Linked DNA regions of Homo sapiens: regions 1, 2, 3, 5 and 6 are each linked to region 4. The links come from fine-mapping of genetic effects on gene expression. A gene starts in region 4. Each other region holds a variant in brackets. All regions are shown on one strand. Distances are between the middles of the regions. Region 1 holds the start of LOC124904258 (a long non-coding RNA gene). Region 2 overlaps GSTM2 (glutathione S-transferase mu 2). Region 3 has its middle 27 kb from the start of AHCYL1. Region 4 holds the start of GSTM3 (glutathione S-transferase mu 3). Region 5 has its middle 15 kb from the start of AMPD2. Region 6 holds the start of GSTM5 (glutathione S-transferase mu 5).

Region 1 (4,073 bases), 20 kb before region 4:
TGGGGGTTGGGGGAGGCTGGGGAAGGGGAACAGGCTTCTAGCCCCGCCTTACCCCTGGAGAGAAAAGGGGTCCTCCCAAACAAGGAAACCAGAGATCCAGCCGTCCCTTCCACATTCCCTTAATTGTTCACTGGCAGTTTATTTCCTTCCACACTGAGTCATCTTATCAGATCCTACGTCATTTTCACAACAGTCCTAATAAACAAGGGTATGGGTTGCTCTCTCACATGTTACCCGGGGTAGTCCAGTATTTCTGCACAACTGAGGTGTACCATGTAGACATGTGGATACCCACAAACCTCATTTGGATAACACATACCCTTGACCCGCACAGACTAACACCACCCCCACCCGGGACACACACACCACATTTAATTCCACTCCATTTCAACATGTATGTTCTCTAGACTCCCTCTGTGACTGCGCACAGCCCAGCGGCAGAGGCATGTTTATAAACCATTAAAACACGAAGCTTGCAATCGGACAGATCTGGGTTGCTCTCTATTAAACGTTCATTTGTGACCTCAGGCCTGTTACCGTCTTTGAGCCTCAGAGTCCTCATATGGTAAATGGGGACAATACCAGTACCTGCCTTGTGAGGTTGTTTTGAGGATTAGAGTGACTGAAGGTAACGCCGTTAGAACAGTGCTAGGCACGTGGCGCCAAGTAAGTACAAGTGGACGGCAGTGAGGAGAAACTGATAGGATGTTGGTAAGGGGCTCAGCACCAGGCTCACAGCACCGTGGTGGCTATTGTGACTATTGTTGCTGGAGATAAATGTACAAGGTCCAGTGCAGCATTAGGAGGGTACCCTGGGCAGGGTGGGGTTGGATGGTCCAGGAGGGCTTCACCAAGAGGGTGATCTTTGAGCTAGAATTTAAAGGGTTGGGGTCAGGAGGGGACCTGGGCAGAGGATACAGAGTACAAAAAGCAAAGAGCCAGGAGGCCTAGGGAGACACTTGGGGGAGGTCAGCTCACTGGCGAGTCCTGCAGTGCCACCATAAGTACACACACACATGCATGCAGTCTTCCCAGAGGGTCTACAGCTGAAGAGCCAGCATCAGCGTCCTCTCAGTTTGCAGAACTGAAACAGGGTCGAACAAGAGGGCCTCCTCTGGCGGGGTCGGCTACAGAACCCTCTGCTCATCCAGCATCTTTCATACCCAGGCCCAAGATAGGATCTGAACGCAGGTCCCTGTCCATCCAGGTTTCCTGGGCTCCTTGGCATGAGCTTTATCAGCCAAACCATGGGAGGCCTGGAGCCTTCCCTGAGGCCCAGCCATGCTGTGGCCTCCCTGACCCTCCCTTCCCTCAGCCCGGGGCCTCCAGGCCCAGCCAGGATGGAGGGCTCCTCAGTGGAGGACGCTGGCTGCAGATGGCTCCGGAAAGGGCCCCTGGAGCCAGGGGCTTTGGGTCTGGTCCCAGAGGCCCCCAGTCAGAGCAATAGCAACTGTCCTGCCCTGCTGTGCCTGGTACACCTTTCCCCAGCTCTGATGGCTGCCTCTGGTTCACTTTGGGTTCTAGGGAGCCGTCCTCAGCAGCGTCAACATGTCAAGGCCCAGCAGCAGAGCCATTTACTGTAAGCTCCTGGCAGGCCCCTCTCCCGTGCCCTCCCACTGAGCCCCCAGAATGTCCCATCCTCCACTCCCCCTTCCTCACACCAACTGCCCCCAGCAGTTGCCTGAGTCTCACCTCGTTCTTCTGCCCACCTCCCGCCCCTTGCTCTGTGCCCTTGTAGTGCACCGGAAGGAGTACTCCCAGAACCTCACCTCAGAGCCCACCCTCCTGCAGCACAGGGTGGAGGTGAGTACCTCTGCAGCCCCCGGGCAGTGTCCAACTAAACCCAAGTGTTCCCATGTGCCCACCGCCCTGCCAGAACATGGACACTTCACACAAGTCCCTGCCCCAGAAGCCAACAGCCTGTCCCAACCATGTCGCATGGACTCAGATCCAACAAGCCTGCCAGAGCATCTGCTCAGTGTCAGGGA[C/G]GGGGAGGGGTGGTCAGATTGAACAGAGCAGGCCTGGCTGGAGGTTGAGCGGGTGAGTGTCCTGTCCCCAGACAGGAAGAAGTAGCAGCAGGATGGGATAAGAAGCACCTACAACCACCCACCCACCTACCCTCCCCTGTCTCCCAACCCCCTGCTGCCCGAGTCCCCAGGGCACTGCTCCATTGCCCAAGACCTTGCATGGCTGGAGGCAGGAGTGTGTGGGATCTTTGGGATCTTTGGGCCCTGTGGGGGATTGAGAGGGCCACTGTTGGAGAGGGGAGGCACCTGGGCCCAAGCCTCCAGGGTGACTGTGAGCAGCTCCGAGGCTGCTCCAAGGCTAGAATGGAGTCTCTGGCTCTACCAGGGAGGATGATGCAGGCACTGCAAGATTTAGGTGCCTGAAGGGCTGTCGACACCAAGGTGAAGGCGAAGCACAGGCTACAAGGGCGTGGTGGGGAGAGCAGGCAGAGGGTCAGGCTGGAGCTCTGGGGTAGAAGCCATCCTGTCCTGGCCACCACTTGTTAGTGGCTCCAATGGAGAACAAGCAGGGAGGGAGCTGGGGCGATGGTCTGCAGGTCCCACAGGGCAGCAGGTCCCACAGGGCAGCAGAGGCAGAGCTCCCCTAGCCAGCCGAGGAGAGGCCAGGAGGACTCAGCTTCTCTGTAGGGTGGAGGCTGGGAAGAGGCTTCTTTTAGGCCCAGCAGGCAGAGCAAGAGGAGGATGGAGTTTGCTCATGATGCCAGAGTCCCCTGAATATGCTGGCAGTGCGAACACAGGGAGAAGAGCTGGGCCCTGGGCAGGGGGGTGGGGTCAAAGGGCAGGAGGCAGGCTGCATCTCCCTACCACAAGAAGCCTGGGTGGAAGGGGCCTTGTGAAGGTAATGTTTGGCTGGGAGAAGGGAGGGGGCTCCTAAAGGAGAGTGGATAACAGCAAAAAACTCCTGGATGGTCAGCCTAGCAGTAGGCAAGGACTTGAGCGGAGACTGAGATCACGATGGATATCTCCAGGCATGAACCAGGGAGAAGGAGACAGGAATGCTGGGTGAGTGAGGAGGAAGACTGGGCTGGGACTGAGTTCCCAAAAGGAACAAAGGAAGCCAGGGACAGAATCTGAGGGTCCTGTATCACCTCCAGAGGAGTTATTTGTTGGGTGGCTGGAGCCCACATCCTCCACCACCCAGCTGCCTCACCTGGCCTGGACTAGTAAAGGCCATGCCTGTCCTTCCTCCAGAGTCCTCAAACCCCTCCTGCAGCCCCTCAGACTCAGACTTGGAGGCCCTATCCCTGGCCCCAGTGCTTCGACACCGTCCCTCACATTGGCCCTGGAAAGTTGCTTTATCTGAAGCCTGGAACCTCCTACCTCAAGGGGGCCGAGGACACGTCTTCTTCCTCTTCTGCTTTTCTCTACCCAGCACGCCTGTGGTCCACCTCTCTGAGCTTTCTCCCAGTCCTAGGACTCCCCCTCTCCCTGCAGCACTTGATGACATGCAAGCAGGGGAGTCAGAGAGTCCAGGGGCCCGAGGATGCCTTGCAGAAGCTGTTCGAGATGGATGCACAGGGCCGGGTGTGGAGCCAAGACTTGATCCTGCAGGTCAGGGACGGCTGGCTGCAGCTGCTGGACATTGAGACCAAGGTCAGCCTTCCCAGCAAACCCAGTGATAGCCAGCCTGGGCTGTGGGGAAGCAAGCACTAGCTCTTGAACTCCACCCTCCATGCCCCAAAGGGCAGCCACTCTCCCCACATACAACACACACCCAAGCCTAGGAAGAGACAGGGGACAGAGGCTGGGGACAGAGGCACAAGAGTCAGGTAGATGACACCTCAGCCCTAGGCCACCAAAGGGCTAGGATGAGCTGGTCAGGAGCTCCCAGAAGCCACACCTAGCTCTGGTGGCCTCACAGTTGACCTCTCCACCTGGCCCAGGAGGAGCTGGACTCTTACCGCCTAGACAGCATCCAGGCCATGAATGTGGCGCTCAACACATGTTCCTACAACTCCATCCTGTCCATCACCGTGCAGGAGCCGGGCCTGCCAGGCACTAGCACTCTGCTCTTCCAGTGCCAGGAAGTGGGGGTGAGTGGTCGGG
Region 2 (4,075 bases), 69 kb after region 4:
ACAGGCTTGACCCTGGCACATAACGGGCCATAGCTCTCAGCTCTCCTCCATCCCTCCCTTCCCACCACCTCTTACCTAACTCCAAGGCCACTCAGCCTGGACCAGAACCGCAGAACCAGAGCTGATGGGAACTAGCTGAGCAAGCAGATCTCTTGATGGGGAGTGGAAAAGGGAAACAGATTCAAGGCTCAGAAGCCTGTTGGACAAATGCCTCAAATCCCCAAATCTGTAGTAATGTAGGATTTGCTGCTCTCAAACAAGTTCAGCACACACTTCACAGGCTGCTCTGCCTGCAGGCCTCTCACTGCACTCATTTCCAGGATGGGGCTGTCATCTATGCATCTCCCACTGTGCCTCACACCCTGCCTCATGCAGAGGAGAAGGTCAGTGAACAGGAGTAAAATCAGCGTGCTACTCATCTCACAGGGGGAACACCTGGAACATTGGAGGGAAAAAAAGAGAGGAAGAGGCCAGGCGCGGTGGCTCACGCTTGTAATCCCAGCACTTAGGGAGGCTGAGGTGGGTGGATCACCTGAGGTCAGGAGTTTGAGACCAGCCTGGCCAACATAGCAAAACCCCATCTCTACTAAAAATACAAAAATTAGCTGGACGTGGTGGTACACACCTGTAATCCCAGCTACTCAAGAGGCTGAGGCAGGAGAATCACTTGAACCCAGGAGACAGAGGTTGCAGTGAGCCGAGATTGCTCCACTGCACTCCGGCCTGGGTGACAGAGCAAGACTCCGTCTCAAAAAAAAAAAAAAAAAAAGAGGTAGAGAAGGAAAGTGCTCCAGCACAGGGCATTTCAGCATAAGCTCCTTCAACAGGGGCACCCACATATGTACCTTAATCCAGCTCCAGCCACAGCCCTGGCTCTCAGGATTCCCCACATGGGGGTTCAATCATACAAAGTTTCTGGGTGTAGCTGTGAATACTGCCTGTGGGTTCAGTATTGAACATCAATGCTACTGTGTGTCAGTCCTACTATTGCCAGCTGCATCCGTGGTCCTGAAGTGCTCTGCCTCTTCCAAAGTGTCCTGGGCTATGAAACCCAGGCTGGACAAGGCCTGAGGCTTTTCTTTTGTCACAAAACGGAGAGCCCTGACTGCCAACCATAGATCCAGAGGCTCGCAGGGAGCCCAGCACAGCCTCCACTGGCTCTGGGACCCTGAGCAAAGGACTGACCCTCTCATTCTCAGTTTCTTTGTCTCTAAAATGGGGGAGATAATTCTACCACCCTGTAGGAATGTTGTAAATTTCAAATTCAACACAATAGGTATAATGTGCTGGGTACAGTTCGTGGCATGAAGCCAGCACTCAATAAATGCAAGTTATTCTTTTCTTCTTTTTTTTGTTTGAGATGGAGTTTCACTCTTGTTGCCCAGGCTGGGGTGCAATGGCACGATCTTGGCTCACCGCAACCTCCGCCTCCCAGGTTCAAGAGATTCTCCTGCCTCAGCCTCCCTAGTAGCTGGGATTATAGGCATGTGCCACCACGCCCAGCTAATTTTGTATTTTTAGTAGAGACAGGGGTCTCACCATGTTGGTCAGGCTGGTCTCGAACTCCCGACCTCAGGTGATCCACCCAACTCGGCCTCCCAAAATGCTGGGATTACAAGTGTGAGCCACCATGCCCGGCTCCTTTTTTTTTTTTTTTTTTTTTTCTTGAGATGGAGTCACACTCTGTCATACAGGCTGGAATGCAGTGGCACGATCTTGGCTCACTGCAACTTCCACCTCCCAGGTTCAAGTGATTCTCCTGCCTCAGCCTCCCAAGTAGCTGGGATTACAGGTGCTCGCCACCACGCCCAGCTAATTTTTGTATTTTTTTTTAGTAAAGATGGGGTTTTGCCATGTTGGGCAGGCAGGTATCAAACTCCTAACCACAG[G/A]TGATCTGCCTCCCTCAGCCTCCAAAGCGCTGAGATTACAGGCGTGAGCCACCGCACATGGCCAAAAATGTGAGTTATTCTTTGTGTAGCTCCAGGACTGGGAAAGCATCACAAAGGAGGGAAAGGAATAAGAGACATAAAGAGAAAGGAGGCTGGGGGCATCACCTCAAATCGGGAGATGAAGTCCTTCAGGTTTGGGAAGGCATCCAGGCAGCTGGGCTCAAATACTTGGTTTCTCTCAAGGACATCATAAGCGATGAAATCCACAAAGGTGATCTGGATAAGGCCAAGGATATGTGGGCTGAAACCTCCATAATATAGGAAGTATGACAAATCTGTGGTGTCCCCATCACACGCCCCCATTACCTTGTCCCCAAGAAACCATGGCTGCTTCCCCAGAAACTGTGAGTAGAGCTTCAGCATTTCAGGGAGTGCCTGCAGGTATTCTGGTTTCAGTTTCTCCTGAGGCAGAAAACAGCTGTCAACACCCTCAGACACAAGCTCCCTGCACAGATGCGGCCTCCCAGTTTTGTGCATGGCCCCAGCTGGCCGCGGGCAAGCAGTCATCTTCCCCACAGCTGGAACTGGGTCACTGTCCAGGCTTCAGCTGGATACATCAGCATTTATTAGACTCCAACTGGGTAGCTGGAGTCTTTCTGAGGTGATGGGATGGCAGAGCGGAATGTGACACTGTCCCTAAATCTGTCCCCACTGACCTCCCAACAACCTCTGGGTCAGCCCCAGGAGCACCTGAGCACCTGGTAGGCTCTGGACCAGATATGAGCAGAATCAAGGATGCAAAGAACTAAAGGAGCTCAGAGAAAGAAGTAGAAATTTCCTCCTAGTTGGGCAGCAGTAGAATACAATGGACATTGAGTGGTTTCTGGAAAGATGAGGAGATATTCAGAGGATAAGTGGAAGAAAGGAGGGGGAAAAAGAGCCTCTGGCTGCCCCTAAGCTGTCTGTTAGGAAAATTCGCTGATCTCAGTGTATGTCAAGAGAGCACTCGGAAGACACCAAAATTTCAGGTGCCATTACTCCTTTGTTTTGCACTTGTTTTCCTCATAGTTTGTGTATTCCTAAAGCAGGCAGATGATATAAACCACTGGGAGAGATGGCCCAAAGCACAGGTCATGGGTCAGAGATGGAAGGGATTCTGGAAGTAACCATTACTGTCTAGAGAGTGAATTCATACCCTGGGGAGTCAGGATTCTATAAGTAGATTGGTGGGGAATTGATTTAGAGGTTTTATTTGACACGACTTTGGGGTTTGAGGGTCACTCTGGTGGCAGTATAGGAAATAGCTTGAAGGATGAGTAGCACTAAAGAGTTCAAACAGAAAACAGGACCCGTGTATTTGGCAGGACCACAGTCTTGGCTCCTGATCAAAATGAGAGGTGAAGCTGGCTGGGCTTCTGGGTCAGGTGAGGACTTGGAGAACTTTTCTGCCTAGCCAAAGGATTGTAAATGCACAAATCAGCGCTCTGTGTCTAGCTAAAGGTTTGTAAACGCACCAATCAGCACTCTGTAAAAACAGACCAATCAGCACTCTGTAAAACGGACCAATCAGCACTCTGTAAAATGGACCAATCAGCTCTCTGTAAAATGGACCAATCTGCATGTGGGTGGGGCCAAATAAGGGATTTCCCCCCCCACCTCCGCCCTTCCCAAGCAGCAGTAGCAACCTGCTCAGGTTGTCTTCCAGGCTGTGGAAGTGTATTTTCTTTCACTCGTCACCATAAATCCTGCTGTTGCTCACTCTTTGGGTTTGAACTACCTTTATGAGCTATAACATTCACTATGAAGGTCTGCAGCTTCACTCCTGAAGCCAGCCAGACCATGAACCCACCAAGAGGAATAAACAACTCCAGACGCGCCACCTTTAAGAGCTGTAGCACTCACTGCGAAGGTCTGCGGCTTCACCCCTGAAGTCAGCAAGACCACAAACCCACCGGAAGGAAGAAACTGCGGACACATCTGAACATCTGAAGGAACAAACTCCGGACACACCATCTTTAAGAACTGTAACACTCACCGTGTAGGACCGCGGCTTCATTCTTAGAGTCAGCAAGACCAAGAACTCACCAGAAGGAATCAATTTTGGACACAAACTCTGCAGGGAAAGGGGAGACTGGGAGTAGGGAAGGGGAGACTGGGAGTGGGGTGGGGGGACTTACAAAATCTGG
Region 3 (4,086 bases), 220 kb before region 4:
GAGGATTAATGAAATGATGTGTTTGGAGTGTAGGCTCAGTATTTGATGGTTAGTATCACCATGACAATGACTAGAGGTCCCCCTCACTCCGTTCCACACCCAAACTATCTCCTCCAAAGCTACCCAAATTCTAATTTTTTTTTTTTTTTTTGACAGAGTCTCCTGTTGCCTAGGCTGGTGTGCAGTGGCACCATCTCGGCTCACTGCAACCTTTGCCTCCCAGGTACAAGCGATTCTCCTGCCTTAGCCTCCCGAGTAGCTGGGACTACCACCACGCCCTGCTAATTTTTTTTGTATTTTTAGTAGAGACGGAGTCTCACCATGTTGGCTAGGGTGGTCTCCAACTCCTGACCTCAAGTGATCCACCTGCCTCAGTCTCCCAAAGTGCTGGGATTACAGGCATGAGCCACCGCACACAACCCTAAATTCTAAATTTAACGGCTCTCTTTGCTCTGTATTCCTCCTACACCTCTTAATAACGATAAGTGTAAATAGTAATAATAGCCAAGCACAGCTATAGCCTACTACATGCCCATGCCTGTGGTGGACACCTCCAAACATTATCTCCAATCCTATTCCCAGTTTACAGTGCAGGAAACTGAAGCTCAGATAAGATAAGTGACTTGCCCAAAGTAAGTGGAAGAGCTGGAATTAGAACTCAGGCCTTCTCTCTCCAAAGCATATGGGCTTTCTACTTAACCACATTTTCTCCTTTGGAAAGAGAAGTCTGTTTTTCTGGATGCAAAGACCAGATACTCTAGCTTCCCCTTAACAACTTTCAGAGCTTTTCTAATTGCTTGCCTCTGTAACTGTAATTCATTCATTTATTCACCCCACAAATGTTTATAGTGTATATCAGGTGCTAGGGGTATAAAAATGATTAAGGCAGTCATCTTCAGAGTTCACACTTTGATGGGGAAGACAGACACATAAATGGGCAAGTGAGGAAGTCAGTGATTAGGTAAAAGGGCACAGTGGGACCCCAGAGTCCAGGTGGGGTTGGAGGAAGAAATGATGACATCAGAAGAAGCTTTCAAAGGACTTGGGTTAATTCATTGACCTACTCTTTATTTCATTCATTTCAGAAATGTGTTTTAAGCAACTATTCTGTTTCAGGCTCTAGGCTAAGCCCTGGAATTAAATGTAGGCATGGCTTGCTTCCGTCTGGCCAGGAGGGATGGACTATAAATAATTAAATGACATTAAAATTGTCTTGGGGTTATGCCAGAAGGATGTACAAGTTAAATCAATGGGGGGGGGAGGGGGTTGGGTGCACAAATAAATGGTTAATTCTCTAGGGCAAGTGTTGTTTCGAAGGTCCAATTTCTTTCAAACATGTTTTTTCTTTTTCCTATTCATTCCTGTCTTACTGTTTGTTTTTGTTTTTGTTTTTGTTTTTTTGCATTTTAAATACCTTTGAGGCTATCCCACAGACCATGCCAAGTAAAAATAGCACATCTAAAACTACATTTATATTTTACAACATTCTCCAGGGAAAGAAGCTTTAATTCAAACAACAATACATCGGGACTGGGCGATGTCTCCACAACTAGCAACATCTTGGTGAAATGAAGGAGATGAAACTTTGGCCATAGTATTACAAAATGAAATATTAATTATGTTTTAACTCTGTTATTTGACCACTATTGTCTTCTATAGAGTGGATAATAGTGCAGGACAGAGTCCAGCTCTACAATTTTGTGACTTTCCTCCCATAAATCATTTCTGAGACCTAGTAAACTTCAGACCCATTAGGTGAAAGCATGTTCAATAAGAACTCTTCAAAAATAAGTATATTTAATATGTGATAAAGGTGGCCTTTTACATCAGGGACAATGTGTAGCCTCTTGGAAAAA[AT/T]AAAATTATATCTATAATATATGCTTTTATAGCAAAATAAAGTCCAGATGGATCAGACATATTTAAATTTTGACAAATGAAATTCCAGAAGCACAAGAAGAAAATATAAAAGTTTTTTTGGTTTTGTTTGCTTGTTTGTTTTTTCATAATCTCAGGGGCAGAAAAGGCTGAAGCCATAACATAAAGAATTGATAAATTCAGTCAGATAAAAATCAAATATTTCTGCATGGTCAAAAAGAATCACATAAATGATTAAAGTCAAATAACAAACTTGGGGGGGTGAGTGAGGATATCTAAAAATTATAATACAGCAAAACAATAATTATACATATTATTATAAGTATATATTATTATATTTGTATCTATATCTATAACTATTATTCTCTCCAGAATTGCTCACATCTACCTGCCTCTCCAGGGCCTCAGTGGCTTGCTCCATAGGGTGCCCTAAACACTGCCCTCTCTGCCTTCTTCCCAGCAACACTGCCTGTCTCATCTCCCCCCAGGATGAAGGCTGGGCAAGGGCCACAGTTGCACAGATACCCAAATCTGGAAGATATGATGCTCTCCTCCTTTGGTCTCAGGTAGGACATAGGACCTGGCTTTCCCACCATCTGTGCAGGTGAGGCAACCCAGAAGTGCAGGATAGTTAATGCCCTGTGGCAAAAAAGGATCTATGAGAGGCTGCAGATAGGAGGACAGATAAAATCCTCTTGTTCCCATTCCCACCATCCTTCACTTCTGACAACTGGGCAACTTAACTGAGCAACTGTCTGTATCCTCCTGAAGCTATGGTCAGCCTGATAATGCACCATGTTGTATTTGCTTTCTCTCCTTTTTGTCCTCCCTTCCATTTTTACCTTCGTGCATGCTGGTCTGGGCTTGCACTCCCTCAGTAAAACATTACCATGTGAGCTTTGCTTCAGGTTCTGTTTCATAGGGAATCTGAGCCAAGACCATATATAAAGAACTATTATAAAACAATGTGAAAAAGACCAACAACCCAATAGAAAAGCAGGCAGATCTAAATAGTTTACAAAAAAGCAACTATAAAAGCAAATAATAATGTAAATGACTCTTAAAAAACGTGAAGAGATGTTCAATCTCGCTCACAACGTGAAACACAAAATAAAATTATAGTGATATTTACTTTTTTACCTATCAAATTGAATATTTTGTAACATGCTGTGTCAGCAAGGGATGGAAAAATAGACACTCTCATTGCTGGTGGAAATATACATTGCTATAACTTCTACGGAGGATAATTTAACAATATCTTTAAAAATAGAAAAAAAAATACACATACTTTTTAGTCCAGCAATTTTATGCTCATTTTTGTTTGTAAAAAGATTGGAGATAATCTAGTGACCATTGACTAGAGACTGGGTCTGCAAATTATGGTACAGCCATAAATGGACACTTTTTAAAAAGAAAGAGGGTTTTTTAAAATGGACTGATTTGTAAAGACCTGCAATTTATATTAAGTAAAAATATGTCTAGAAATATACATAGTAAACTGGTAACAGTGGTTGCTTCTAAGGTTGGGCACTTACTTAAAATCTTTTGTACCTTTGGAATTTTGTACCATGTGTATTATCTATTTTTTCCTAATCAACTTTATAGAGGAATAATTTATGTATAGTTAAACCACATCCATTTAAAATTTACAATGCAATGACTTTTGAAAATTATATACTTGTGAGGCCGGGCGCAGTGGCTCACGCCTATAATCCCAGCACTTTAGGAGGCTGAGGTGGGCGGATCTCGAGGTCAGGAGATTGAGACCACCCTGGCCAACATGGTGAAACTCCGACTCTACTAAAAATACAAAAATTAGCCAGGCACGGTGGCGTGTGCCTGTAATCCCAGCTACTCAGGAGGCTGAGGCAGGAGAATCACTTGAACCAGGGAGCTGGAGGTTGCAGTGAGCCGAGATCGCACCACAGCAGTCCAACCTGGCGACAGAGTGAGACTCTGTCTCAAAAAAAAGAAAGAAAGAAAGAAAGAAAGAAAGAAAATTATACACTTGTAAAACCAGCTCCACAATCAAGACACAGAACATGAACATTTCACCAAAAGATGCCTCATGCCCTTTGCCATCCAGCTGTCTCTCTTCCCTGGCCCCAGGTAACCACTGATCTGCTTTCTGTCATTAGAGATTAGTTTGCATTTTACATCAATGGAATCACACAGCATATACTCTTTTGTATCTGACTTCTGCACTCTGCA
Region 4 (4,086 bases):
AACTATCGCAAGGACAAAAAACCAAACACCGCATGTTCTCACTCATAGGTGGGAACTGAACAATGAGAACACATGGACACAGGAAGGGGAACATCACACTCCAGGGACTGTTGTGGGGTGGGGGGAGGGGGGAGGGATAGCATTAGGAGATATACCTAGTGTTAAATGAGGAGTTAATGGGTGCAGCACACCAACATGGCACATGTATACATATGTAACAAACCTGCACATTGTGCACATATACCCTGAAACTTAAAGTGTAATAATAATAAAATTTAAAAAAAAGAAAGTAATGCAAAAACTGCAAAAAAAAAAAAAGAAAAAGAAAAGAAAATGGGCATAACACCTACTTCCTAAAGTTGTTGTGAAGCTTAAATTGGAATAAATTAGCTAACATACGTAAACACTTAGATATTGCCTGGCATATGATAGGTGCTCAATAAATGTTAATCTTATACCTCAGGTGAATTTGTGACTGGCCTTTTGCTTTCTTGGGAGGAGAGACACAGGCATTATAAATTTCACCTGTCCATGTGGTTTGTACTCTTCCTTTCTTCTGTTTAGCAAAATGCCCTTTTAAAAAGTCCCAACCTTGCTTCAGTTGAACTGATGGGCAAATGTGATTTCCCACACCTGAGCTAGGGGATCTAGGCTCTCAGACTGCCCTGAGAGCTGTGCTGCAGAGGCCTGGCCAGAACCCTCAGAGCAGCTCCGGACTCCTTCCTCTGTCACTCCTCCACATTCAACTAGAATCCTATGTCTCCCGAGTTGACCCTGTTGCAAATCTGTGCCCCTTTTCATTTGCATGGGCCCTGCCGAAATTCAGAAGCTTAGTTCTTCCCATGACTATAGGGGCCTCGGGCAGGTCTCTTGCTCTGTCAAGGTCAAAACCCCTACTTTCCTAAATTCAACCATTGATTCTCCATCTTCATCTTACTTGATCAGCCACACTTGACATAGTTGATCACTTCTCCCTTTAAACATCTTCACATGGCTTCTGGGACCTTTTGTTTTCCTCCTACCTCCCTGGCCACTCCTTTTCAGACTCCTTTGCTGGTTTGCTCTCATTTTTCCCTAACCTTTACATGTTGATATGCCAGAGCACCTCAAACCCTTAGACCTCATCTCTGCTACTCGTGCTCCCATGGTGATCTCATCTAGTCTCTGGTTTCAAACACAGAGTGATCACTCCTGTACTTGCTGTTTCCCTTTTCCTGGAGTTCTCTCTGCCTCCTGCAGGTAGGAAGTGATTCGAGATAAGAGAGGGAGAGAACTCTTCTGGCCAGGATAGAGGGTGATTCTGAGAAGGCTTCAAGGAAGAAGTGAGCATTTGAGCACGGCTACTTGAGGAAGGCTAGGCCATGGACATTAGGGTGCAGGCAGGAGCAGAGCAAACATGCTTGTAAAAGGAACAGCAATTATTCTGTTTTATATTTATATCAGCCCATGGTGGCCCCCACAGCAGAGTGGCTTGATCTCTCACCTCCTTCAGGTCTTTGTTTAAAGATTAACTTCTCCATGAGGCCTTCTATGAACATAACCTTTAAAAACATAAATCCCCTTCCTACTGGGACTCCCCCAGTTCCCACCCTGAGACCCCCTATCTCTCTTCTCGATTTTATTTCTCTCCATAGGATGTGTATCACCACCTGACTTACTAGCTATTTACTATATATTAGTTTATTTCTTCCCCATTAGAATGTAAACTTCCTGAGGGCAGGGATTTTGTCTGTTGAGTTCAGTTCTGTATCCCCAGCACCTAAAACAGTGCCTGTCCATAACAGGCATGTTAAACATTGTTGGACAGATGAATGAGTGAATGAAAAATGGTAGTACCTTTCCTCCTCCAGTCCATCCTACACAAAGAGGCAAGATTAATTTCCCTAAATGCGTGAGCATTAGGAAGTGGGAGGGATTGGAGGAGGAAATTATAATAAGGAATCCATAAATTACTTAAGCCCATAAAACAAAGGTAGGAAACATTCAAGATAAGAGACCTCTTCTGGCCAGGATAGAGGTTGGTTCTGAGAAGGCTTCAAGGAATAGGCAGACATTTCAGCAAGGCTGCTGAGGAAGGATAGGCTGTGGAAATTAGGATGCAGGTAGGAGGATCACAGAGCAAACACTCCAAGGTGGGAAATGCAAGTGTGTGTAGAAGGAACAGCAAGTATTGTTGGGTTGGGCTGGCTTATGAAGTTGTGACGGGCTGAGGGAGAGACAGGACTGGAAAAGCACGTTGGGGTCAGGTTGCAGAGGTCCTTGACTGACAGAGAGGGGAGCTTGGTCTGTGGGGAATCTTCTGCTCTGTGTGGTCAGAGGCTGGTCTGACTCTCCGGCCTTGCCCCAGTCTTCCTATCCTTCATCCAGCCCCGGCTGGCTCGGTAAAAACGGCGCGAATCTCGCTCTCCCTGGGTAACTAGGGTCCCCACTGCCTGGCTAGTGGTGCTTTTCGCGTCTTCACTGGCACCATTAATGAATGAAGTCTGGCTCCCACCCGCGGGGAAGGGAGGAGCCTCAACCTCGGGTCCTTTGCTCTCCTGCAGCACTCCTGCCCGGGTCCCGCCTCGGGGTCGCCAGGCCCTGAACCCCAACGCCGGCATTAGTCGCGCCTGCGCACGGCCCTGTGGAGCCGCGGAGGCAAGGGACGGAGAACGGGGCGGAGGCGGAGTCAGGGCGCCCGCGCGTGGGCCCCGCCCCCTTATGTCGGGTATAAAGCCCCTCCCGCTCACAGTTTCCCTAGTCCTCGAAGGCTCGGAAGCCCGTCACCATGTCGTGCGAGTCGTCTATGGTTCTCGGGTACTGGGATATTCGTGGGGTGAGTGCCGTCTCAACGGTAGAGCCGCTCGGTCAAAGAGACTGACGCGGAGAGGGCGGGTCTCTGGGTCCGCGATCTCCAGCAGGAGCAGCTCTACGCGGGAGCCTTTTCGAGCTGCCGAGCCACGGATGTCGACCCCTGCCCAGCCTCTGGGATCGCGGGCCCTGTGGGGAGGGGCGGAGGAGACCACGCCGGAGCCGGGCCTAGGGGCCGCTTAACCACCGCCCCGGCAGGACGCAGGGACTCGGCAGCCCCGGGCCGGGGAACGTTAGCGGGCGGGGGTTGGGAATGGGTGGGAGCTGCGCAGTCGCTGAACCGCTGTCTTCCCCAGCTGGCGCACGCCATCCGCCTGCTCCTGGAGTTCACGGATACCTCTTATGAGGAGAAACGGTACACGTGCGGGGAAGGTAATGCCGCTCCGCGTGCCCGTGCAGCCAAGCTGGCCCTCCACCTGCCCTGGTCTTCTTACGCCCAGAGGGTGGTGGCGTCGCGCCAAGGCCGGGTGGGACGTTTGCCCCAATCTGGGTGAATAGAGACACATCCTTTATCTGGAACTGGGGGTTCTCTTTTTAACATAGCCCAAACCCGTCTTAATGCTTAACCAAATAGGGCTCAGAGGCTCAATGGTTATGCTTTTGGGGCCTGGGAATTTGAGGTATTGGGACCAAGTCATTTCTTTAGATCTTTTGCTCTTGTCAGGTGGGGTATTAAGGAGGTTGGGTCCCACTTAATTCCGTCTCTTACAGCTCCTGACTATGATCGAAGCCAATGGCTGGATGTGAAATTCAAGCTAGACCTGGACTTTCCTAATGTAAGTGGCTTTAGTAGAGGTGGCGGGCAGAAGGGAAAGCCTTCAAGTATATCCATCCTTGCCTCTCTCCTGCCTGGTACAGAAGGATGCAAAATAGGGGATCTTAACCCGGATAGAATAAATAGAATTCAGGGGTCCTTGAACTGGATGGATATGTATTTTCATTCCCATTAACCACTAGCAAAAGTTATTTCCTTTTATTGTGAAGAGAGACAATAAGTGACATTGGTTATTAGCCATGTCTGTCACTTTGTCACTAGTAGAAATCAGGTATTTTCTTTTTTGTGTGTTTCTTGTTCTTTTGTTTTGAGACAGTGTCTCACTCTGTCGCTCAGGCTGGAGTGCAGTGGCGCAATCACAGCTCACTGCAGCCTCAACCTCCCAGGCTCAAGCAGTCCTCCCACCTCAGCCTCCCAAGGAGCTGGGACTACAGGCACACACCACTATGCCCAGCTAATTT
Region 5 (4,086 bases), 110 kb after region 4:
GAACTAAAGCTCAGAGTTCCTAGAAATTTTCAGGATCTTATGGCTAATAAGTGACAGCTGTGCCGTGGGATAGAGCCCGGGGATCACAAACCCAGTACCTCTCTGGCAGTGTATGGACTGGGATGGGTATAAGGTAACCGGGAGGGGTCAGGCTAATAGCCGCCTCAGAGCATTCACATTCTCGATCTCATATCAGGCTGTGCCAGCCAATCACAATCCTGTGGCCACCTCTGCCACCTCTGTCTTAACTACTGGTCTTAGCAGCCTCCCCACAAAAGCTCCTCTCCACCCACACTGCCACCAGCCAGGTCCTTGTCAATCACACCCGGGATGTGGCAGGAGCCTCCTCCATGACCCTTCTGCCTCTAGACTCACCCGCACTGATCCTTCTGCTCATCAGAGCCTGACCCTGTCCCTTCCCTGAGCACCCCACCCCTAGAGGGACCCCCTCAACCAGACACGTACCCCAGGGACCATGATAGAGTAGGAGGAACAAAGACTTTGCAGCCTGACAGTTCTGGGGTCAAATCCCAGCTCTGGCACTCATTAGCTGAGTCATCCTGGATAAGTTACATAACCTCCCGAACCTCATTCTCCCTGTTGACGCGAGGGAATATGGTGATAGATATCATGCAGAGTTCTAGGAGCTGGAAGTACATTCACACTTACAAAGAGTTCAGCCCAATGCCAGGTGCTCATAGGTATTTTACCCCACCATGGCAAATGCGTAGTAGACACACCAGCATACCCCAGCAGTAGCTTGGGACCCTGGTGGGAATGGATTGGTAGCCACTCCCCTTTGCATATCTCCTCCAGGCCTGGGAAGTCAGGGAGGAGGGCTGACTTGCCCAGCTAATAAACAGAACACTCAGGTTTAAACCCAGGTCAGTCTCTCATCTGCAAAGGGGAGACAGAAATTCCAGCTGTGCATATCTGTTGCACAGATTCAGAGAAGATGCCAGTGGCAGCAGTAGCTGCTCCAAATCTGCCCAGACTATTTAGGGAGGCAGGAGAGTTGAAGGTGACGGCAAGACCAAAATCTGAGCCAACCCCCCTGGCCCAGAGTGGGACTGCGGGGCTGAGCCATTTTAAGTAAGTCCTTTATAGACCCTGCATCTGATTCTTGGAGGCCCCACACTCACTTGCATTTAAAATGCACCCACACCCCCTCATTAAATATAACTGCTTTGCTTTAAAGGGGTTTTTATAAATTTGCTTTTGAAATTACTTGACTATGAGTAACTCATTTAATTTACTATTGGCTATGCTTTCTCTTTAATCATATTGCATATTCTGGAACTCTTGTCAAAAATCCAACTTACAAATTGTTTTCAAATATAATGGCATGTGACTTAACAAATATTGAAGTTGACATGCTACTTTCTGAAGGCATTTCATTAAACATTTGTCAATTTCAACTTTTTTTTTTTTCCATATTTTGCAGCCCTCAGAGGTTTTCTTTCAGCTCTCCCATGTTGCCAGGGGGTGGGGGTGACATTGAGGGTCTGCCGGGAGAAGACAGGTATGCGCACAAAAGCAAGGCACTTAGATCGCCCCCATTTCTAGACTTGCAGGCTGCCTGCTTCAGGCCCAGCTGCGGAAACCACCCACCCCAGGTTGCCCAGGGCATCCTAATTTGGGCAGTTTCACTCTCATTTTGAAAATATAGTGATTTCTCAAACATTGGATTAAACCTGAGTTAAGGCTTAAGCCTTTATTGGAATTTCATATGAATACATTCATAAGTGAGGCAATACTTTGATAGGGTAAATGTTCTGATGTAGGGTTTAGAAATCAGGATTATTGTCACCCTAACCAAACACCCTTACCCATCCTCTACCGCAGCCTGGGGGCCCAGATAGCTCCCCACTTGCTCCCCTCCAC[T/C]CCCCCAGGAGTGGACACGGAGAGGGGACCCCGTGCAGGGCATGTGAGATGTGGCCTGGCACACAGCCCTCATACTTCCCAGTCTGAGAGCTTTAGGGACAGATGAGGGACAGTCCCCCAGGGTCGACTTCACTCAGGACAGGTCCCAAACCTTGGAAGGAGACAGGTTGGGTTGCCTATTTTATTTACTCCCTCTGCCACCCACCCTCCTTCCCCCTCACCCCCCCATTCCATGTGAGATCTGGCCCCTGACCAGGAAGAAGATGCGGGCACCTTCACACACGCAGGCACACACAGCAGGTCGAGAGGAAGGGCAGGGGGTGGGGCTCCAAAAGAGGAGAGGAGGTGGCGGGCTGGCATGGAAGGTGCAGGCAAGGTCGAGGGCAAGGAAATGACTTTTTATTTCTGCTCACATACTTTGATTCATTTCTATCAAGAACAGTAAAAAAAATTCTACCTTGGACCTGGTGATTTCACTCAGGGCATCTAGACTAAGGGAATAATCTGGAGAGATTTAGGCAAAGATAATAATAGCTAAGATTTACTGAGTTCTTGCTTGGTGCTTTATATCCAGTGGCTGAATGAATTCAAAATCAACCCGTGAGAAAAGTGCTATTATTATCCCCATGAAATGGGTGAGGACCTGGAGGCACAGCGAGGGGAAGTAACTTGCCTAAGGTCACACAGCCTGAAAGTGGTGGAAACAGAAGTCAAACCCAGAGTGCACACTGTTGGTCACATTAGGACACAGTCATTCTTAACAGAGGAGAGCTGTAATCATAAACCATGGGAGGCTCACCGGGGGTGGTGCACAGTAGTTCACATTCATATTTGCAGAGTATTTTGATGACATGTGGAAAGACGTATGTTAAAATACTTTTTAAAATAGGCCGGGGTCAGGCACGGTGGCTCACACCTGTAATCCCAGCACTTTGGGAGGCTGACGTGGATCACCTGAGGTCAGGAGTTCGAGACCAGCCTGACCAACATGGTGAAACCCCATCTCTACTAAAAATACAAAAAATTAGCCAGGTGTGGTGTCACGCAACTGTAATTCCAGCTACTTGGGAAGCTGAGGCAGAAGAATCACTTGAACCCAGGAGGCAAAAGTTACAGTGAGCCAAGATTGCACCACTGCACTCCAGCCTGGGCGACAGAGTGAGACTCCATCTCAAAAATAATAATAATAATAAAAAATTTTAAAAAGCCTAAATCATTCTTGTGATCTCAACTTAAAAATAGCATTTTAAAAAGAACTGAAAAGAATACAGAAATATGCACAGATATGCATTAAAATATCTACATATATCTCAGGCATGCAGCAAATATTTGGTGAAACTGGTAGATTATGAGTGGGCTTTTATTTCTTCCTATTTTTCTATATTTTCCAAATTTTTTTTAATGAAAATGATTTTCTTTTCAAATAGGAAGAAGTATTAAGGCCTTTTAAGATTATTTTCTCTTGATAAATATTTGAAAGAGAAATTTCTGAGAAACTAAGAAACCAGAGGCAAGTTGTTTAAAAAATAAATTGTGGGTTGGGTGCGGTGGCTCACGCCTGTAATCCCAGCACTTTGAACCCAGGAGTTCAGGATCAGCCTGCACAGCATGGTGAAACCCCGTCTACAGGTGGCACGTGCCTGTAGTCCCAGCTACTCATGAGGCTGGGGTGGGAGGATCACTTGAGCCCAGGAGGTCACTGCAGCCTGGACAATAGAGCAAGACCTCGTTTCAAAAATAAACCGTGAAGAGGCTGCTAAGGAACTTTAAATTAGTAATATTCTTAGAGCTAAGCCTCAACACACACTAAGAAAAACAGGAGACAAGAAAGTGAACTGAAGGATTCTATTAAATGACAAATTCAACAAGTAAATATGGAGTCCTAAGTGCTGGCAGACAGGACAGGCAGTTCTTGCCTCCAAAAGACCTTCTAGAAAAATCTTTTAATCCTGCTTCCTTGTTAAAACAAAGACAAGACACAGCTCACTTGTGTTATTAAATTATTCACCTACTTGAAAAGTGAGTTCCCCTCACCCTTCTAAGGGGGATCCTTGGGCAGCCGAGGCCCAGCATGGGTGAAGGAGCCCTGGACTCACCACCTCCCACCCTCATCGGGCTCCAACGTTCAATTCTGTGACATGTAAGTGGCCAGGATGAATTGGCAAGGGGTGTCTTCTGAACTGAAGGGCCTTGGGTCTTGAC
Region 6 (4,086 bases), 27 kb after region 4:
AGGGAAAAAAAGAGAGGAAGAAAGATAAAGAAGGAGAGTGCCCCAGCACAGAGCACTTCAACACACACTGCTTCAACAGGGGCACCCACATATGTACCCTAATCCAGCTCCAGCCACAGCTCCGGATCTCAGGATTTTCCACATGGGGGTCCGATCATGCAAAGCTTCTGGGGGTGGCTATGAATACTGCCTGCAGGTTTAGTACTCAACATCAATGCCACTGTGTGTCAGTCCTACTATTGCCAGCTGCATCCGTGGTCCTGAAGTGCTCTGCCTCTTTCAAAGTGTTCTGGGCTGTGAAACCCAGGCTGGATGAGGCCTGAGGCTTCTCCTTTTGTCACAAATGGGAGAGCCCTGACTGCCACCCATAGATCCAGAGGCTCACAGGGAGCCCAGCACAGCCTCCACTGGCTCTGGGACCCTGAGCAAAGGACTGACCCTCTCATTCTCAGTTTTCTTATCTCTAAAATGGGCAAGATAATTCTGTCACCCTGTAGGAATGTTGGAAATTTCAAATTCTACACGATAGGTATAATGTGCTGGGCATGATTCCTGGCATGAAGCCCGTACTCAATACATACGAGTTATTCTTTGTGTAGCTCCAGGACTGGGAAAGCATCTGAAAGGAGAGAAAGGAACAAGGGGCATCAAAGAGAAAGGAGGATGGGGGCATCACCTCAAAGCGGGAGATGAAGTCCTTCAAGTTTAGGAAGGCGTCCAAGCACTTGGGCTCAAATATACGCTTCATGTCAAGGACATCATAGGCAAGGAAATCCACAAAGGTGATCTGAAGAAGGCCAAGAATGTGTGGGCTGAAAACCCCGAAACACATGAAGTAAAACAGATCTCATTCCCCATATCACTCCTCCTTTACCTTGTCTCCTGCAAACCATGGCCGCTTCCCCAGAAACTCTGAGTAGAGCTTTAGCTTTTCAGGGAGTTCCTCCAAGTATTTTGGCTTCAGTTTCTCCTGAGGCAGAAAACAGCTGTCACCACCCTCAGACAAAAGCTCCCTGCACAGACGTGGCCTCCCCAGGGCTGTAGATGGCCCAGGCTGGCCACAGGCAAGCAGCCATCTTCCCCACAACTAAAACCGGGGCAGTGCCCAGGCTTCAATTGGATACATCAGCATTTATTAGACTCTGACTGGGTGCCAGACCCTATCTGAAGTGATCAGAATGAGATGCTCTTCCTGAATCTGTCCTCACTGGCCTCCCAATAGCCTCTGGGTCAGCCGCATGAGCGCCCGAGCACCTGGCAGCCTCTGGATCCAGACAGGGGCAGAATCAAGGATGCAAAGAACTAAAGGAGCTCAGGGAAAGAAGTAGAAAGTTCCTTCTAATGGGGTGACAGAAGAAAACAATGAACATTGACTAGTTTCCAGGGAGATGAGAAGTTCAAGTTGAAAGGAAGGAGGGAGAGGAATAAAGGCCCTCTGGCTGCCTCTGAGCTGTCTGTTATGAAAATGCGCAGATCCCGGTGCATGTCAATGACAGCACTTGGAAAACTTTGAGGAGAAGATGCAATTTGAGGGTGCCATTACATTCCTTGGTCTTGTACTTGAGTCTGTATATTCTAGGAGCAGGTAGGTGATATAAATCAACTGACAGAAATGACCCATGACAGAGGCCAGAGGCCAGAGGAGATGAAGGAGATTCTGAACACAAATTTTACCATCTAGGAATTGAATTTCCACCGTGGGATGCCTGGATCGTGTCCTAAGATTGGTGGGAATTGCCTCTGCTTTTGTTGACATGACATTGGAGTCGTGAGAATAACTGCTGATAGTATGGGAAAGCACTTGGAGGATGAGTGGTACCAAGGACTTAAGAAAAGACCAGTGCGTGCAGGAATGCAAGAGTCCTGGCCCCAAATCCAAACTCTGCCAGGTGCAGCTCACTGGGGAGACTCACAAACTCTGGGTGGTAGCAGATCATGACCAGTTGCATCCAGTTGTCCGTGGTCTGGTTCTCCAAAATGTCCACAAGAATCTTCAGAAGAGGAGAAGATTCGTGTGGACATTTTGGAGAACCAGGTTATAGACGTCTCCAGTCAGCTGGCCGGAGTCTGCTACAGACCTGACTTTGGAAGTCCCTCCCTGGTCTGGGCCAAAAGGCAGGGAAATGGGTGACTGGGAGTGGGGTGTGGGACTCACAAAATCTGGGTCATAGCACAGTCTGACCAGCTCCATGTGGTTATCCATAACCTGGTTCTCCAAAATGTCCACACGAATCTTCTCCTCTTCTGTCTCCCCACCTGCCACCCACAAAACACAGACTCAATCTCAGCATCACAGCCCAGCCAAGGAGGAGGTCACCTTCCCCCCGCACATTGCAGCCACCCACACTCACACAGGTTGTGCTTGCGGGCAATGTAGCGCAGGATGGCATTGCTCTGGGTGATCTTGTGAGCCCCATCAATCAAGTAGGGCAGCTGGATAGATGGGAAACCGGGGAAGCTCAG[T/C]TGGGCCACCAGGCTCCCCAGCATCCCCTTCCCATATGCAAGGGCAGAGAGGAGACCAGGGCCTGCTCATGGCAGGCCTGAGATAGAAATACTGTCACACTAATAAATGAGCTGGGACACAGAACATCATGCAAGGGCTGTGTAGACAGCCAAGAGTGAGAGGAATTGGGCAGAAGACTCCTGATCTTAACACCTCTAAGGTGGGGAGAGGAGATGCAGTCAGAGACACGTCGCACTTTCCCCCAAAACCGCCCCTTCCCCTGCACCTACATTGGGAAAGTCCAGGCCCAGCTTGAATTTTTCATTCAGCCACTGGCTTCTGTCATAGTCAGGAGCTGTGGTGGGGAAGAAGTGAAAACAAACCTCCCCAGAGCCCAGCCCTCCTTCCCGGGGACCCTCCCAAGGAGCCAGTGGCAAGATCCCTGAGACAGGTGGATCTAGAATCTGACCACTCAGTCCCACATCCCAGGGTTCAGGGAGAAAGAATCCCACTGAGGGCTCTGGACCCCACAACGGCTAAGGCTTCCAGGGTTTAGGGAAGCTCTGAGGGACACCCAACCCAATTAGACAGGGTGTCCAGCATCCCGCCCCAGCATTCTGCCTTGCAAGGCCAGAGGGCTCACTCACGGGAGCTCAGGGAAGGGACAGCCTGCAGCTCCAGCAGGGGAGGCCTGCAGAGGCAGCCACAGGTGGCCACCATGGGTTGCTTGGTGCCAACTCAGCGTGAGTGGGCAGGGCCCGGACACGAGGGTGCCATTACCGTCCCCCAGCGTGTACTTCTTTTCCACATAGCTTGAGTCTGTGTATTCCAGGAGCAAGCGGATGGCGTGGGCCAGCTGGGAGAGATGGCCCGCGGCTCGGGTCAGAGATGGAGGGTCCCTGACTTGGTGACTTTCTCTGCACCAGGCCAGCCCCTAGTCTATACTGCACGTACCCGTCGCCTCCTCTACCCGCCCCCACCCCCAAACACACACACAGCGTCATGCACAGGCCCTTCTGAGGCGGGCAGCCCTGAAGAGGAACGGTCCCTAGAGCCAGTCCTGCAGCTACTCCACACATCCCCGCCTCCGCCCCCTGTCCCACCCACCAGAGGACCCTCGCTTACCCCACGGATGTCCCAGTACCCCAGAGTCATGGGCATGGTGCTGGTTGGTGCGGATTCTGCAGACAGGCATCAGCGGAGCGGGGCTCAGACTTTGAGAGGCCCAGGAGGGGACAGGCGGGGCCTTGCTGCGACCCCGCCCCTCGGCCCGCCACAACCCCGAAACACGCCATTCTGTAGGCCCCCGAGCGAGCGCCCGGGGCTGGAATCAATAAGCCCCCTCCCGCCTCCCAGTCCCCAGGGTTCCGGGAGCGAGGTCAGGGCGCCCAGAAGCCCAAAGCGGGGCTCGGCCTCGCCAGCTTCCCCAACCCGCCCTGAGGCTCCATGAGTCCATCCAGCCCTTGCTAGGTCCACAGCGACTTGGCTGTGCGCTTGAGACACCAGCCAGATCCTAACGGAGCAAAGCTCTTCTCCCTTCTCCTCCCTGCCCGCAGAATCCCTCAGCCTTCTCTCCGCTGCCGAGTTCCCAAGGGCTCTGGGAGACTCCGGCTGCAGGGGTCAGACTAAAAAGTGGTGGTCCC

What was found. PIP is the estimated chance that this variant, and not a neighbour inherited with it, causes the effect.
Region 1: its variant is fine-mapped to the expression of GSTM3 in left ventricle (GTEx, PIP above 0.99). The same link has a PIP of 0.9 or more in cerebellar hemisphere, cerebellum and sigmoid colon.
Region 2: its variant is fine-mapped to the expression of GSTM3 in sun-exposed skin (GTEx, PIP above 0.99). The same link has a PIP of 0.9 or more in tibial nerve.
Region 3: its variant is fine-mapped to the expression of GSTM3 in vagina (GTEx, PIP above 0.99).
Region 5: its variant is fine-mapped to the expression of GSTM3 in whole blood (INTERVAL, PIP above 0.99).
Region 6: its variant is fine-mapped to the expression of GSTM3 in subcutaneous fat (GTEx, PIP above 0.99). The same link has a PIP of 0.9 or more in sun-exposed skin, tibial nerve, transverse colon, unexposed skin and visceral fat.

What each region holds. Positions count from the first base shown.
Region 1 is chr1:109,759,225-109,763,297 of GRCh38, reverse strand. EPS8L3 (EPS8 signaling adaptor L3) reads left to right here. Exons shown (of 19, transcript NM_133181.4): 2 at 1,525-1,579; 3 at 1,739-1,803; 4 at 3,462-3,620; 5 at 3,911-4,060. The coding sequence starts at 1,549. LOC124904258 (a long non-coding RNA gene) reads right to left here and starts at 3,433. Exons shown (of 2, transcript XR_007066303.1): 1 at 3,348-3,433. RefSeq lists an enhancer at 2,003-2,732. The variant C/G (reference allele first, on the strand shown) is at 1,989.
Region 2 is chr1:109,669,563-109,673,637 of GRCh38, reverse strand. GSTM2 (glutathione S-transferase mu 2) reads right to left here. Exons shown (of 8, transcript NM_000848.4): 5 at 4,067-4,075; 6 at 2,256-2,351; 7 at 2,055-2,165. Among named protein-coding and RNA genes, the nearest start is that of GSTM2, 3.5 kb to the right of the region's middle. RefSeq lists an enhancer at 3,715-3,814. The variant G/A (reference allele first, on the strand shown) is at 1,890.
Region 3 is chr1:109,955,411-109,959,496 of GRCh38, reverse strand. No RefSeq gene overlaps it. Among named protein-coding and RNA genes, the nearest start is that of AHCYL1, 27 kb to the left of the region's middle. The variant AT/T (reference allele first, on the strand shown) is at 1,857.
Region 4 is chr1:109,738,969-109,743,054 of GRCh38, reverse strand. It overlaps GSTM3 (glutathione S-transferase mu 3), which reads left to right and starts at 2,017. Exons shown (of 9, transcript NM_000849.5): 1 at 2,017-2,102; 2 at 2,544-2,815; 3 at 3,147-3,222; 4 at 3,562-3,626. The coding sequence starts at 2,768. RefSeq lists a silencer at 2,578-2,807.
Region 5 is chr1:109,633,025-109,637,110 of GRCh38, reverse strand. No RefSeq gene overlaps it. Among named protein-coding and RNA genes, the nearest start is that of AMPD2, 15 kb to the right of the region's middle. The variant T/C (reference allele first, on the strand shown) is at 1,885.
Region 6 is chr1:109,711,831-109,715,916 of GRCh38, reverse strand. It overlaps GSTM5 (glutathione S-transferase mu 5), which reads right to left and starts at 3,666. Exons shown (of 8, transcript NM_000851.4): 1 at 3,569-3,666; 2 at 3,224-3,299; 3 at 2,734-2,798; 4 at 2,352-2,433; 5 at 2,156-2,256; 6 at 875-970; 7 at 677-787. The coding sequence starts at 3,604. The variant T/C (reference allele first, on the strand shown) is at 2,464.